4 linked regions of the Homo sapiens genome follow. The protein of the gene in region 3 purifies or fractionates together with the protein of the main gene of each other region. This does not show direct contact. Each region holds a gene or a part of one and is shown on either strand. Other genes may lie near its edges.

What was found. Proteins that work in one complex are often made in the same cells at the same time.
Region 1: the proteins of AKR1A1 (region 3) and GNPDA2 fractionate together in Homo sapiens (co-fractionation; one large-scale study listed by BioGRID). This does not show direct contact.
Region 2: the proteins of AKR1A1 (region 3) and C11orf54 fractionate together in Homo sapiens (co-fractionation; one large-scale study listed by BioGRID). This does not show direct contact.
Region 4: the proteins of AKR1A1 (region 3) and MAP4K5 purify together in Homo sapiens (affinity purification with mass spectrometry; one large-scale study listed by BioGRID and IntAct). This does not show direct contact.

The regions. Positions count from the first base shown.
Region 1 is NC_000004.12:44,713,057-44,716,556, forward strand, and holds part of GNPDA2 (glucosamine-6-phosphate deaminase 2), read right to left. Parts: intron 1,604-3,500; exon of another isoform or gene 1,540-1,603; intron 1-1,539. UniProt on the Homo sapiens protein: Catalyzes the reversible conversion of alpha-D-glucosamine 6-phosphate (GlcN-6P) into beta-D-fructose 6-phosphate (Fru-6P) and ammonium ion, a regulatory reaction step in de novo uridine diphosphate-N-acetyl-alpha-D-glucosamine (UDP-GlcNAc) biosynthesis via hexosamine pathway.
Region 2 is NC_000011.10:93,748,172-93,751,671, reverse strand, and holds part of C11orf54 (ester hydrolase C11orf54), read right to left. Parts: intron 1,327-3,500; coding exon 1,228-1,326; intron 1-1,227. UniProt on the Homo sapiens protein: Exhibits ester hydrolase activity on the substrate p-nitrophenyl acetate, in vitro. Regulates DNA damage and repair by regulating HIF1A degradation via chaperone-mediated autophagy (CMA).
Region 3 is NC_000001.11:45,553,826-45,557,325, reverse strand, and holds part of AKR1A1 (aldo-keto reductase family 1 member A1), read right to left. Parts: intron 1-3,500. UniProt on the Homo sapiens protein: Catalyzes the NADPH-dependent reduction of a wide variety of carbonyl-containing compounds to their corresponding alcohols.
Region 4 is NC_000014.9:50,529,770-50,533,883, forward strand, and holds the start of MAP4K5 (mitogen-activated protein kinase kinase kinase kinase 5), read right to left. Parts: upstream 2,801-4,114; 5' UTR 2,679-2,800; exon of another isoform or gene 2,631-2,678; intron 2,390-2,630; 5' UTR 2,281-2,389; coding exon 2,173-2,280; intron 1-2,172. UniProt on the Homo sapiens protein: May play a role in the response to environmental stress. Appears to act upstream of the JUN N-terminal pathway.

The DNA of each region.
Region 1 (3,500 bases), on a different chromosome or scaffold from region 3:
GGACGCACTTATTAAATAATGGCTGGATAAATGAATGTATGGTTGCTATTCTTTGGTCAGCTCGGTATAGTTTATTCCACCTCCCACCTTGTTCTCTTCTGCCTTGCTCCCCTCACCAGAGGGGCTGGAACAATTTTAATTTCCTATATCCCTCTTAGGTAAAGTGACTGTGGTCTAGAGATAAGCACTTGTCTCAGGCTGAGCCAATCAAAATATCTGTCTGGATCTGAATCTTGACCAGGGATACAGTTAACGAAGACAGCATGGTGAACTGAAGCACTGGATGACAGCACTGCAGGGAGAAGATTGATGAGTTTCTACTTCTGAGATCTGAGGTTCTCTGTTTTTCCAAAGACTTGGTTGTTTTAACTTTTCCTTCAGTTTGTGAGTTACCCTAGAATCATTCCAGTTAATTTACTTTTGATCCCATTAGTTATTTCCTTTTTCTACCAAAGCAAAGAATCCAAGCATGCAACCAAATCAGAAGGTTAACATTTTCTCCACTGTCTTCTTTTATTTTTACTTTTTAAAAACACTATTAGGCCGGGTGCAGTGGCTCACACCTGTAATCCTAGCACTTTGGGAGGCCAAGGCAGGTGGATCACCAGAGGTCAGGAGTTCGAGACCAGCCTGGCCAATGTGGCAAAACCCCATCTCCACTAAAGATACAAAAATTAGCCGGGCATGGCGGCAAGTGCCTGTAGTCACAGCTACTCAGGAGGCTGAGGCAGGAGGATCGCTTGAACCTGGGAGGTGGAGGTTGCAGTAAGCCAAGATCAAGCCACTGTACTCCAGCCTGGGCAACAGAGCGAGACTCTGTCTCAACAACAACAAAAAACCCAAGACACTACTGCGTTAAGATATTTTAAAAGTTTATATATTTAGATTTTATTGTAAAACTAGATTTTTAAAATTATTTATTTATTCATTTTGAGACGGAGTTTCACTCTTGTTGCCCAGGCTGGAGTGCAATGGCACGATATCAGCTCACCACAACCTCGGCCTCCCAGGTTCAAGTGATTCTCCTGCCTCAGCCTCCCGAGTAGCTGGGATTACAGGCATGCACCACCACGCCCAGCTAATTTTGTATTTTTTTTTAGTAGAGACGGGGTTTCTCCATGTTGGTCAGGCTGGTGTCGAACTCCCAACCTCAGGTGATCTGCGCACCTCAGCCTCCCAAAGTGCTGGGATTATAGGTGTGAGCCACCGGATCCCAGCCCTAGATTTTATTTTTAAAAATCCATGTTTGTATATCTTATTGCTGGGGTTAAGTCAGGAATTGCATGATACACCTTTTACCCTTTCTCTGAACACGTTTGCCATCAGAGGAGGAATTAGAACATTTGAGTATGTATTTCCTCCTTTTTCTTTCCCTCTTCCCTCAGAGGAAAGGGACCTCTGCTCTAATTCCCTGGAATGAGCAATAGCAGATTAACATTTTTGAGCTCTTCTCATTCTACTGTTTCCAATTCAAAGGGCAGGAGTGAAAAACCCCATTCTGGCTTCAAGCCCAAACTGCAATCTCTATTTCAACTTTACCTTTAATAAAGCTGATATTTTGATCCCATTTGGCACAGTTCTTAGAGTTTTTATTAACCAAACCCTGGAACAAAAGAAGGGTAGTTGTAAGACCCAGATGCCAATCCTCATCTAAAAATCCAATGATGATAAACCTAGATCAACAAATGAGATTCTTTCATGAATACATATCCAATAATAGGGCATCCCAAATAAGGAAAAGTTCAAAGAAAATGCAATAATCCTTCTCTCTCTCTGCACAATTATGTCCTTTAGATGGTACATATAAAATGTCAGGCATTGGATCATCCATGACTACAGTGAAGATGTTAATGTAAGAGGCACAGGAACTCTCTTAAAATATATTTGGGAGCGGGGAGGAGCGGGGAAACAACTACAGGAAGCTTAAGACAAACTGGTTAAAAAACCAAGTCAAATTCTTTTTAGTGGTGTCAGTGATAAACATATATAATTATAACTTATGCAACATCTATTTCAAAAGGAGAACTGAGGTGGTTTATACTGAAGAAACATAACCCCCTCCCAAAAAAAATTAGCTGAAAAGAAGTACGAAATGATTTAAAGTTATAAGGAAAGAGGAAAGTTCTACCAGACATCTTGGATAAGAATTACAGGCTTAAACATTATTTTATGCTATGAATGCTTTCTGGAAGGCAGGCAAAGGAATAAAATCAAGTGTTCTTATCAGTGTTATTCCCCATAGTAAAATCTATTTCCTACCTTTGGGTCTACAAGAGATTTGTCACATGCATACTTATGTAAGGTCAATAAATTAACAAGGGGGAAAGAAAGTCTACAAATGAAGATATTTTCAAGCAGCCACTTTTAATAATGAACCTCAAACAACTAAGAGCCTTTTTTTGCATTATAGTAAATGAGTGAAAACATTTTTTGATATAAGCAGTTGAAGTATGTGGTACTCCAGTAATTCTACCAGATTTTGGTGTGGAGCTTAGAAAATCTAAAGATTAGATGGTCTATGCACCCCTCAGACACTCTCAAATATCTACTGTCTAGCCTGAATATTGGAAGGTACAAATGGTTAATTATCTCAAAATTGAGTCATACGTACAAAGCAGGAGTATGCAAATGTTCTCTAGGATTACTGAAGTAATATTAGTAAATTTTATTTAAAACAGATAACCTTCTAATTTGAAAAGCAATAGTCTAACTTGGTTTCTTGCTCCAATAAACAACCATTCTATCAAGAAAGTAAATGTTATTGACTCTGCTAGGTAGAAGTAAAAACTATCTTAAAGAGAAGATTTCAGTCTTCCTGGATGTCCCTAGAGGGAATTCGGTAAAAATCCCAAGGAATTCAGTAATTCTAAGGGACAATTATTTCCGCATTTACAGTTGAGAGAGAAAGAGAAGACTGAAGTAGCACTTATGGAGTACCAACTATATACCAAGCACTGTGTAAGGCATTTTATACATGTTACAACATGATTAATTCTCACAAATTTTGGAATGTTTAATATTAATCCTCTTTTACAAATGATGTACCTATACTGAACTTCAATAAACTTTCCCAGGTCATACAGATACTAAGTGGCTAAAACAGGATACAATTTTACGTCTGACTTTAAAACCAAATTTCCCCCAATGATAATCAACTATCTCAACCATACTTGGCCACTTCAAGTATAAATTAACCTCAGGACAGCTCTATTGAAGATCAAATTCATGTAATTTTGATCAGTGTTCTATTAAGTTAATAATAAGTTATATACAGATAATTTACAGCATTAGTATTTTTAGTTGAATATTAAAGAATCTGGCAAAAAATTTTGATTTTAGTTTAGTTGATGTTGAACTATTCTTATAGCAATTAGCTAGCTGTCTGCGATAGTTTACACTGATAATAGAAAACCACGTTGTCATTACAAAGGAAAAAACTTATTTTTAACTGTAGATTATATATACACACACATATATAAATTACAAGTGGAATTTGGTAA
Region 2 (3,500 bases), on a different chromosome or scaffold from region 3:
AGCACTTTGGAAGGCCGAGGTGGGCGGATCACGAGGTCAGGAGATCGAGACCATCCTGGCTAACACGGTGAAACCCTGTCTCTACTAAAAATACAAAAAATTAGCCAGGCGTGGTGGCACATGCCTGTAGTCTCAGCTACTCAGGAGGCTGAGGCTGGAGAATCGCTTGAACCTGGGAGGCAGAGGTTGCAGTGAGCTGAGATTGCGCCACTGAACTCCAGCCTGGTGACAGAGTGAGACTCTGTCTCAAAAAAAAAAAAAAAAAAAAAAAACTATAAAAAAGTACTATGCTAAATCCTTTGAAGAAGCTAAAAGAAATTGCCACATGGTACACAAGCCTTCTAGAATTTACAGCTCTACTTAAAATCAAAGATTGTTTAAGCTGTAAAGGCCCCCAAAAAACATTCAATTCAAATCCCCTCATGCTAATGTTATCTCAAAGTCAGGTTTGTTCTAAGACAGAACTAGAGTCCAGAATTTCTATGGCAAACTCCTTTTTAGCAAAGATGTTAATTACATAATAAAAAGAACACTTTGAGTGTTTATCCTCAAATTCCTCATCATAATAGGGTATAACAGGAGGGGGTTAGACTTTGGAAACAGACTTGCATTTGAATCCTGGTTATGATTTACACTGAGCTTATCTAGCCTCTCTCGTTTTCAGTTTTCTCATCTATAAACAAGGGCTACTACTTACCTTGTGGTGTTATTGTAAAAACTGAAACATCAACTAACTATCTATCATACTGACAAATTATTTTATTCTTCTAATACTAATTTCCCTTCCTTCTCACTTCAAACAGTGGATGCTCACTTGGCAAATTTGTTGAAGGATTAGTTTTAACAGATCATTCAAATACAAGGCTTTTAGGATCCCTTCTGGTCTTGAATAAATAAAATCATAAAAATTAAAATCAGTTTCCATAACAGTCTGAGCAATTAAAAGCAAAACTCTCGTGTGATACAAAGAATTCTAACCTATTGGATATCTATTCTACAATCTGTGAAGGTTACATAAGTGAATAAAACACAATCCTTTTCCACAAGAGTATGAAATGAAATTTAACCAATATCAGAAGAGTGAGCACAGAAATTTGGCACAATTTAGCCTAAATGTTGTGACAATATCCTTTATTTGTAGATAATTTAAGATGTCCTTAAAAATAATTCTAGTTTCAGAAAAAGATTATGACTAAAAAACAAAAGCTAATTGCAAAAATTGCTTACCTTTTACAGGAAAGGTAAAGGGTTCCTTAGTCAAATCAGGGCAATCAACTACAGAGACCTGGACATCAGCAAAGTTATCTTTTAACCCCTTCTGCATAACTAATAAAGACAAGGAATAAGATTATTTAACATTAGGTAAAAACTTGGCTACCACGTATCAAAAGTGGTATGTGGCTCTCAACACACTCCCAATCTCAACTTGTATAATAAAAAAGAAGGGGGAAATGGTCTTATTAATGAATATAATTAGACATTAGACATAATCACAAGATACAACGTAGACTAAGATATATAAATACTTCCTCTACAGTGATTTTCAACTGTTGAAGATAAACAGCCTGCACTTGTGTGAGGGTGAGGATTACCTTCTTTTTTGAGAGAAGATTCCAAAAACCAACTGAAATGCAAACATTTAAACTTTTTAAAAAGTAAGCAATCACATGTAACAACTTCAGTGAAGGTAACAGACAATATGTTGAACAAAGCAGCCAGACACAAAACACTACATACAATATTACTTCACCTTATGCATCTCAGAAACAGGCAATGGATCAAGGCTGACTGGGAAGGTGTGCAAAGGAGCCTTCTGGGATGTTGGAAATATTTTACATTTTGATCTGGATAGTAGTTACATAGGTGTAACTATTGTTAACATTCATCAAGCTGTACACTCAAGATTAGCATACTTTACTGTAGATAGTTATACCTCAGTAACAATGTAAAAAAGCATAGGTGTCTCAAAGTTATTAATGTAAGACCAATGTATTTCCCTCTCTCTTTTTTTCTTTTATATGTAGAGACCAGGTCTTGCTATATTGCCCAGGCTGGTCTCGAACTCCTGGACTCATGTGATCTTCCTGCCTTGGGTCCCCCAAAGTGCTGGGATTACAATGAGCCATCACACCTAGCCTCAACAGTTTTTTTTTTTTTTTTTTTTTTTGAGACAGAGTCTCACTCTGATAGCCTTACCTACCCTGTCGCCCAGACTGGAGTGCAGTGGTATGCAGCATGATCTTGGCTCACTCAGCCTTGATCTCCAGGCTCAAGTAATCCTCCCACCTCAAACTCCCCAGTAGCTGGGACTACAGGTGGATGCCACCATGATTGGCTAATTTTTGTATTTTCTGTAAAAATGGGGTTTTGGCTTGTTGCCCAGGTGGCTCTCAAACTCCTGGGCTTAAGAGATCTGCTCACCTTGGCCTCCCAAAATGCTGGAATTATAGGCATGAGCCACTGCATCAGCCTATGTACTTTTAAGGATCAAAAGTTCTTACAAAATGTCTTTTTTTTTTTTTTTTTTTGAGATGGAGTCTCACCCTGTCACCCAGGCTGGAGTACAATGGCGCAATCTCGGCTTACTGCAACCTCTGCTTCCCAGGTTCACGCCATTCTCCTGCCTCAGCCTCCCGAGTAGCTGGGGTTACAGGCGCCCGCCACCACACCCAGCTATTTTTTCTATTTTTAGTAGAGACAGGGTTTCACCATGTTGGCCAGGCTGGTCTTGAACTCCTGACCTCGTGATCTGCCTGCCTCAGCCTCCCAAAGTGCCGGGATTACAGGCATGAGCCACCGCACCTTGCCAATTTCTTTCTTTCTTTTTTTTTTTTTTGAGACTGAGTCTCGTGTTGTTGCCCAGGTCGAAGTACAGTGGCGCGATCTTGGCTCAACGTAACTTCTGCCTCCCAGGTTCAAGTGATTCTTGTAGCTCAGACTCCTGAATAGCGGGAATTACTGGCACACACCACCACACTCAGCTAATTTTTGTATTTTTAGTAGAGATGGGGTTTTGCCATGTTGGCCAGGCTGGTCTTGAACTCCTGACCTCAAGTGATCTGTCCACCTTGGCCTCCTAAAGTATTGAGATTACAGGCATGAGCCACTGTGCCAGGCCATAAAATTTCTACTTTTTCTGAATATATCCTGCACATATAGAAGGAAAATAGAAACAAACACAAAAGTGAAAACAGATTCTAGAAAAGCAATCAAAGAAAAAATCTGGCCAAGCATGGTGGCTCATGCCTGTAATCCCAACACTTTGGGTGGCCGAGGCAGGAGCATCGAGTGAGGCCAGGAGTTCAAGAGCATCCTGGGCAACAGAGCAAGATCCTATGTCTACAAAAAGAAAAAAGAAAAAGAAAAAATTCCTAACTGCCCTGTCATATTAGGGAAGACAGACTGATGAAAAAGAAATACAGGCCAAACAATACAGATTGTTTATTAGCTACCATTCAATTAGGGAAAAAAAAAAAGATTATAAGAGGAAAGTTACAACA
Region 3 (3,500 bases):
CTGCTTGATACAACTGCTTTCCAGCCTAGCTGTGCGTGAACAGATTCCAGACTCTGAGCTTGTCAGGAACTGCCTATCTGGACCTTTGGCAGCATTCAGAAACCCTCATGTTATCTTTTTTATTTTTATTTTTTTGAGATAGAGTTTCATTCTTGTCACCCAGGCTGGGGTGCAATGGCGCGATCTTGGCTCACTGCAACCTCCACCTCCTGGGTTCAAGCGATTCTCCTGCCTCAGCCTCCCCAGTAGCTGGGATTACAGGCATGTGCCACCACGCCCAGCTAATTTTTGTATTATTAGTAGAGACAGGGTTTCACCATGTTGGCCAGGCTGGTCTTGAACTCCTGACCTCAGGTGATCCACCAGTCTCAGCTTTTCAAAGTGCTGGGATTACAGGCATGAGTCACTGTGCCCAGCCTATCTTTTACTTTATTTATTTATTTTGTTTGAGATGGAGTTTCACTCTTCTTGCCCAGGCTGGAGGGCAATGACGCAATCTTGGCTCACCACAACCTCCACCTCCCAGGTTCAAGCGATTCTCCTGCCTCAGCCTCCCGAGTAGCTGGGACTACAGGCGCCCGCCACCACGCTCGGCTAATTTTTGTATTTTTAGTACAGACGGGGTTTCACTGTATTGGCCAGGCTGGTCTCGAACTCCTGACCTTGTGATCCACCCACCTCGGCCTCCCAAAGTGCTGGGATTACAGGCGTGAGCCACTGCGCCCGGCTATCCTTTTTTTCTTTTAAGACGGAGTCTTGCTCCGTCACCCAGGCTGGAGTACAGTGGCACGATCTTGGCTCACTGCAACCTCCACTTCCCAGGTTCAAGTGATTCTCTTGCCTCAGACTCCAGAGTAGCTGGGATTACAGGCGCCCACCACCACACCTGGCTAATTTTTTGTATTTTTAGTAGAGACGGGGTTTCACCATGTTGGGTAGGCTTGTCTCAAACTCCTGACCTCAAGCAATCCACCCACCTCGGCCCAATGTGCTGGGATTACAGGCGCGAGCCGCCGCGCCCGGCGGAAACCTTCATGTTATATTCAAGTGTAAAAGAGAGATGTGTGGGTTGAGTGGGGAGGAGGGTATTATCAGGAATCAGGTTTTATTATTTCCAATTCAATGCCTAGGTTCCTTCCCTCTGTTGAATTCTTTCTTTCTCAAAGGGCTCTACAGTTGCTGCCTGGCTGCAGGGAAGTAGAAGACACAGGAAAAAAAGGAAACAATATCTACATGAGTGTTTCCTAGCTGCATGGGCCTCTCCTCTGGCTCCCACATATGCTGGTGTGGGAGGCAAAGGAAAGGTCCCTTCAGGGTTTTCTCCTCAATCTTCTCATTCCCTAGTTGAGTTCATGTCTTCGGTTATCGCCTTAGGCCTTGATTCTTCTCACCCCACTTCTGTATATTCAACGCCCTCTGGACCTCTCCACTAGTATGTATAGGCATCTGAGATTCGCCATGTCCAAAACTGTACTCATCAAATCCAGCAGTAGAGTACAGAGGAAACAGTTTAGGCTGTGGGGCTACGCAGACCTGGGTTTGAATCTCAGTTCTGATATTTTCAAGAGATACTATATCTAAAGCACCTTGCACAGGGCCTAACCCATGCTCTTCTTTCTGTATAGTCATCCCGTGGTATCCACAGGAGATTGGTTCCAGGACCCCTTCAGATACCAAAATCCTGGGATGCTCCAGTCCCTTATATAAAATGGCATAGTATTTGCATAAACCTAAGTACATCTTCCTGTATATTTTAATCAACTCTAAATACTTATAATTCCTAATACAATATAAATGCTAAATGCTAGGTAAATAGGTGTTATAATTTTTTTTTTTTTTAGACACAGTTTCACTCTTGTTGCCCAGGCTGGAATGCAACGGCGCAATGTCGGCTCACCGCAACCTCCGCCTCCTGGGTTCAAGTGATTCTCCTGCCTCAGACTCCCGAGTAGCTGGGATTACAGGCATGCGCCACCACGCCTGGCTAATTTTGTATTTTTAGTAGAGACAGGGTTTCTCCATGTTGGTCAGGCTGGTCTCGAACTCCCGACCTCAGGTGATCCACCCACCTTGGCCTCCCAAAATGCTGGGATTACAGGCGTGAGCTACCACGCCCGGCCTATACTGTATTTTTTTATTTGAATTTTTAAAGTTGGTTTTTGTTCCCAAGTATTTTTGATTCTAGGTTGAATCCGCAGATGCACAACTTGTGGATAGAGTGTTGACTTTGTACTCTATCTCACCAAAAGACCAAAGCCCTGGATAACAAGTGTTAAAGCAAACCAGACAACATGTTGATAGTATAATCCATTTGGGCCTTAAAAAAAAACATCTGGTTGCGTGTGGTGGCTCATGCCTGTTAATCCCAGCACTTTGGGAGGCTGAGGCAAGCAGATTGCTTGAGTCCAGGAGTTCGAGACCAGCCTGGGGGACATGGCAAAACTTAATCTCTACAAAAAATATGAAAATTAGCCAGGCATAGTGATGTGTCTCTATGGTCCTAGCTACTCAGGGGGCTGAGGCAGGAGGATCCCTTGAGCCTGGGGGGCAGAGGTTGCAATGAGCTGAAATCACACCACTGCACTCCAGCTTGGGCCACAGACTGAAACCCTGTCTAAAAAATAAATAAATAAAAGCCATCTAAAGAAAGTATTTGTAGTTCCTTGCAGGCATTTATGAGTATTATCAGATTATGGTTTTGATAAGTAGTTGGTGAGGAGAGTATTTTCTCCTGTACTTTTCTTTTTGAGACAGGGTCTCACTCTGTTGCCCAGGCTGGAGTGCAGTGGCCCATTCATGGCTCATTGCAGCTTCGAACTCCTGGACTGGAGCAATCCCGAGTAGCTGGGACTACAGGCACATGTCACCACACCCAGCTTATTTATTTACTTATTTATTGAGACAGAGTCTCGCTCTAACGTCCAGGCTGGAGGGCAGTGGTGTGATCTCAGCTCACTGCAAACTCCACCTCCCAAGCTCAAGCTATCCTTTCCATTCAGCCTCCCAGGTAGCTGGGACTAGAAGCATGGGCCACGATGTCCAGCTCATTTTTTGTGTTTTTCGTAGAGACAGGGTTTCTCCTTGTTGCCCAGGCTGGTCTGAAACTCCTGGGCTCAAGTGGTCCTTCTGCCTCAGCCTCCCAAAGTGCTGGGATTATAAGTGTGAGCCACTATGCCTGGCCTTATTTTTCTTTTGTAGAGATAGGGTCTCACTGTGTTGCCCCCTCAAACTTCTAGCCTCAAGTGACCCTCCCACCTTGGCCTCCTAAAGTGCTGGGATTACAGGTGTGAGCCACCACACCTGGCTTTCTCCTATACTTCTTTTTTTTTTTGAGACGGAGTCTCGCTCTGTCACCCAGGCTGGAGGGCAGTGGCGTGATCTCGGCTCACTGCAAGCTCCGCCTCCCGGGTTCATGCCATTCTCCTGCCTCAGCCTCCCGAGTAGCTGGGACTACAGGTGCCCGCTACCATGCCCAGCTAATTTTTTTGTATTTTTTAGTA
Region 4 (4,114 bases), on a different chromosome or scaffold from region 3:
GACATTACGAAGAGAGGAAATAGCAAGAACAAGGACCCAAAGATGGGGAGATGCTTATCATGTTTAAGGAGCAGCAAGCAGGCCAGTGTGACTAGAGCAGAATGACTAAGGAGAGTGGTAGATGAGGCTGAGAAATAAGAGGGAAGGGCTGTCTTGCCCAGGAGCATTTGGGTAAGGCTTTCATGGACAGGTATTACAGCAACAGGTGGAAATGGAGGGGTGGAAGGTGATTCCAAGTAATTAGAACAAAGGAAAACAAAAGACAAGGAGCTAAGAACGCCTTAAGGATGTTTAGAATCAGAGGCTGGCCTAGTGTGCAATGAATATACATGTAAGTGTGAGGAAGCAACATTGTGAGGGTAGAGGAAGCAACATTGTGAGGGTAGGGGACCATGTGTTAAGGGGTGAAGGTAGAGTATGATGAATATTCGGTTTTTGATTCTGTTTGGGAACTGCAGAAGAGAGACTAGGGCAGGAAGGCACCAGGGTAAAAGGCAGGCATTAGCTGCCCCTTAAATATAATCTTTGCTTTTTCTCAGGCATGAATAAAATCCTGCTCCAGAGTTGCTTTAGTTACTACATCTATGAAGAAAAAGGGTGGAGGTCTTAAGATCTTTATGGGAAAAACACTCCTAAAACTTTATTGTAGTAGGGAGAAGAGAATATATACAAGTAGAATTTATACTATTGTAAATTAACATGAACTAAATTGAACTCGTCTAACACACAGTGAATCATAAGACAAAGATGACTAAAAAATGAGACTGAGAAAGGAAATAGGAATTTCAATTTTCTGAAGAGCATTCCACAAAATGGCTAATCCCTGGATAAACAACTAAGTTAACTACCTCTAATTTTACATAAAGAAGAAGAGGATTGTTACAAACATACACTTTGAGTTCAAAGGTATTCACAAGGTAAGAGCCAGAACCTTGCTCACAATTCATCACCTCAGTACCTCTACCAGTGCCTGGTACAGAAGACTCAAATGCTTGTTTAAGCAATAAAAAGCCTATCCATTACAGTTTATCTCAGTAGAATCAAACAGTGCTAGGGCTGTTTGATAATACCACTACCTTGAAATGCTAATATTAATTAGGAGGAAATTAAAAGTAAGTAGAAAGAGGGGAACCACCTGTGCAAAACAACAACCTAACCCCAGAGGAATCTACTGGTTAATTACCCAAATGACACAAAACCACTTCAGCGATATGCAGAAGTGTTGTTTGGCACAATGCGATATATATCATGATCAAATCCAATAAACAACGCCGTTGCAAAAAGCAAAGGAATTTGCCCTTAATATTCATAGGCTGCACTAATGCTCCCTTTTTGGAACACACAACAAAAAGCATAAGGCAATCTCAATCTCTTTCCTCTGAACCATTCAAGAACTCAGCGGATTTGGGGAATTGGGTTTGCTTCTCTACAATGTTTTTTAAAATCCTAAATTAGGTGTAACTTACTCTCATCGTTTGTCTTAAGTAATACAAAACAGCACAATACAAAGACAGCGGCTCATATCCACTCTTGGTTATAGGATGTTATAAATCCCTGAAAGGAACCGCTAAAGTAAAACAAAACCCAGCAAGTTAATATCACATTTTTATCGCCAACCAAAAACAAACGATCAAACTTCCACCAGGAAAAGCATCTTTTTATATGGGATAATGCTTGCATAAATGTCACCAATATTAGTTTGCTTACAGTTAAAGCTCAGAGACAGGGTTTCATATGGCTTTTTTAGTCAAACTCATCCATTGAAACAAATTTTTTTAAAAAAATGCAAATGTCTGAATGTCAATATTCTTTCCTGTCTATCTTCCATGAAGCATTTTTCCATGCTAACACTAGAGCATCCTTCGGTGTAATTCCACAAGCAGATTCAAATTCCCTTCAATACCATAAATAAGCCCTATTAAAAAGCCTTTAAACCACAAAAAAAGTGCAACAGCGGTTTGCAACTGTGTGGTTAGTTCTGCCTGTTGGTAGCGATTAGAACAAGCCATGAGTCGAGGGTGCTCAGAACCGAGTAAAAGGGACCCCGGCCGCTTTCTCCCCAAGAGGCAACAATAAAAGCATCCTCCTCTCGCCCCAATACTTCGCAGGAAAGTGGCCCCATTCCCGGGACCCAGTCGACCGCAGGAAAAAAGCACGGCCAGCCTCACTTACCTTATAGACGTCCCCGTAGGTGCCGCTGCCGACCCTCTGGACGAGTTCGTAGTCCTGCTGCGGGTTCCGCCTCAGGATGTCCGCGGCAGGCCGCAGCGGGGCCTCCATCTTCACTTAGGGCCCGGCCCCCGCCAGCTCACCCCGCGGCTCCCGGATTCCCGCTAACAAGCACGAACGGCGCCGCTTCCCAACATGGAGCCTCCGCCCGCAGCTCCGTCTGCACGAGGGACGAGCAAAGGCTGGTTGGCGTCGCAGGCTACGACCCCCAGCGGCCCGCGCCCTCGCGGCCCGGCCCCTTCCCTTCCGTCCCGCCAGGGGCCGTGGAAGAGAAAGGGGCCTGGAAGGGCCCCCGGCGCCCCGTATCCCCGTTCGGTCTGCGGCCCTTCCCCCTCCCCGGCCGCCCGCGAACTGCCCGACGAGGCCTCCCCGCCAGCCGGGGCCCAGGGCCGGCTCCGTACCTAATGGGGGCGGCCCCGTCTTTGTTGAGCGCGGAGCCCGGGACCTACTTCCTAGACCGCACCCGCGTCCTCCTCCCGCGCGCCGGCCGGCAGCTCCGGGTTTGCCGTCGCCGCCGCCGCCACTCAGCCGCTGCACGGCGCGTCCTCTCGGGGGCGGCGGAGGCGCGTACAGTCGCCGCCGCCGCCGCCGCCGCACCACGTTCCCCACCCGGGGCTGCGTCACCGGGAGACACGTTCCCAGCCAGCATGGGTCGGCGCCCAGCGGCCCGCCCGAGCACTCCGGCCGCAGAACCAGAGTGCCGCCCTGAGGCCTGCTGAGAACACAACACCCTCCCGACCGCGCCACCGCGCCCCCCTAGCCGGGCGCGTCCTTGCAGGGCCTGGGCTGTCTCCCTCCCACTCTCAGAAATAAGGCACACGCCTGGGCATTCGTGGGCCAACGGGCCTTGGCTAAACCGTCCCCACATTTGTCAGGTAGGCCTGTAGGGTGACGGGTAGAGGAAGAAGGGCGATGGGAACGTAGCCCTCCAAGTTAAACACGGAAAAGGTACGTTAAGGGCACCGGGCCAGAAGTAACCTGGCAGCGGGGCGCCGGGGAAGGAGGTGGGGGAGTGCCAGGTTAACTAAGTCCCGGCACACCCTACTGCACCTTCCTGTTTTGCAAACCGATCCCGGTGGTACCAGTTTGAGGCTGCACTGCACACCTGCACAACCTGCCTTCTACTTAGTTCTTCTGAGACATTTCTGAAAGTCTGAATTCCTAGGACTGCTCAATGACCTTTGTCCCTGTTGGGCACACGCAGTGTCTCATCGCTGGTATTGCACCTTTAATGAGACCAGGAGTTCCGCAAAAGTAAAACAAAGGGGTCACAGACTGGTTCTGGTTCTACCACTTCCTCAGTATGTGCTCTGGGACAAAACAGCATATTTGGCAACATCTCGGTGTCCTTATCTGCAGCTTGAAGAGGGTAAGATTTTGCATCTGACACCCAGGAAAGTGTTTATAAAGCGTTTTACAGGATAGTAAGGGGGGTTATCGAATATAAGAGGTCTTAAAATACTTAACAATGCACAGCATATATGGAACAGGAGTTCGGGGAAGTAATTTGGCTGATATTTCACAAGCTGTTTTGCAGTTTCAGTTCCAGTCTTGCTCTGAAGGTAGAAATTAAGTTGCCAGTGTTACATTATACTGGCTAAGTTATTTCTAGAGCCTCATAGAGAATTTGAACAGAAAAGCCAGATAACACTCAGCCACTGCATTTAGTGACTGAAACATCATAAAAGAGCAAGTTGGAGATGTTGGCTTGTGGCTTTGAACATCCAATTTTTAATTCTGCTCTTGAGAATTAAAATACTCCTTATTGTTGATAATTGTATAATGTATAATAAGGAGTAATTGACAATACTCCTTATTGTTGATAATTGTATAATGTAGAAATTAAATTCGCACCTTAACAGGACAGGGCATATATGTATTTTCT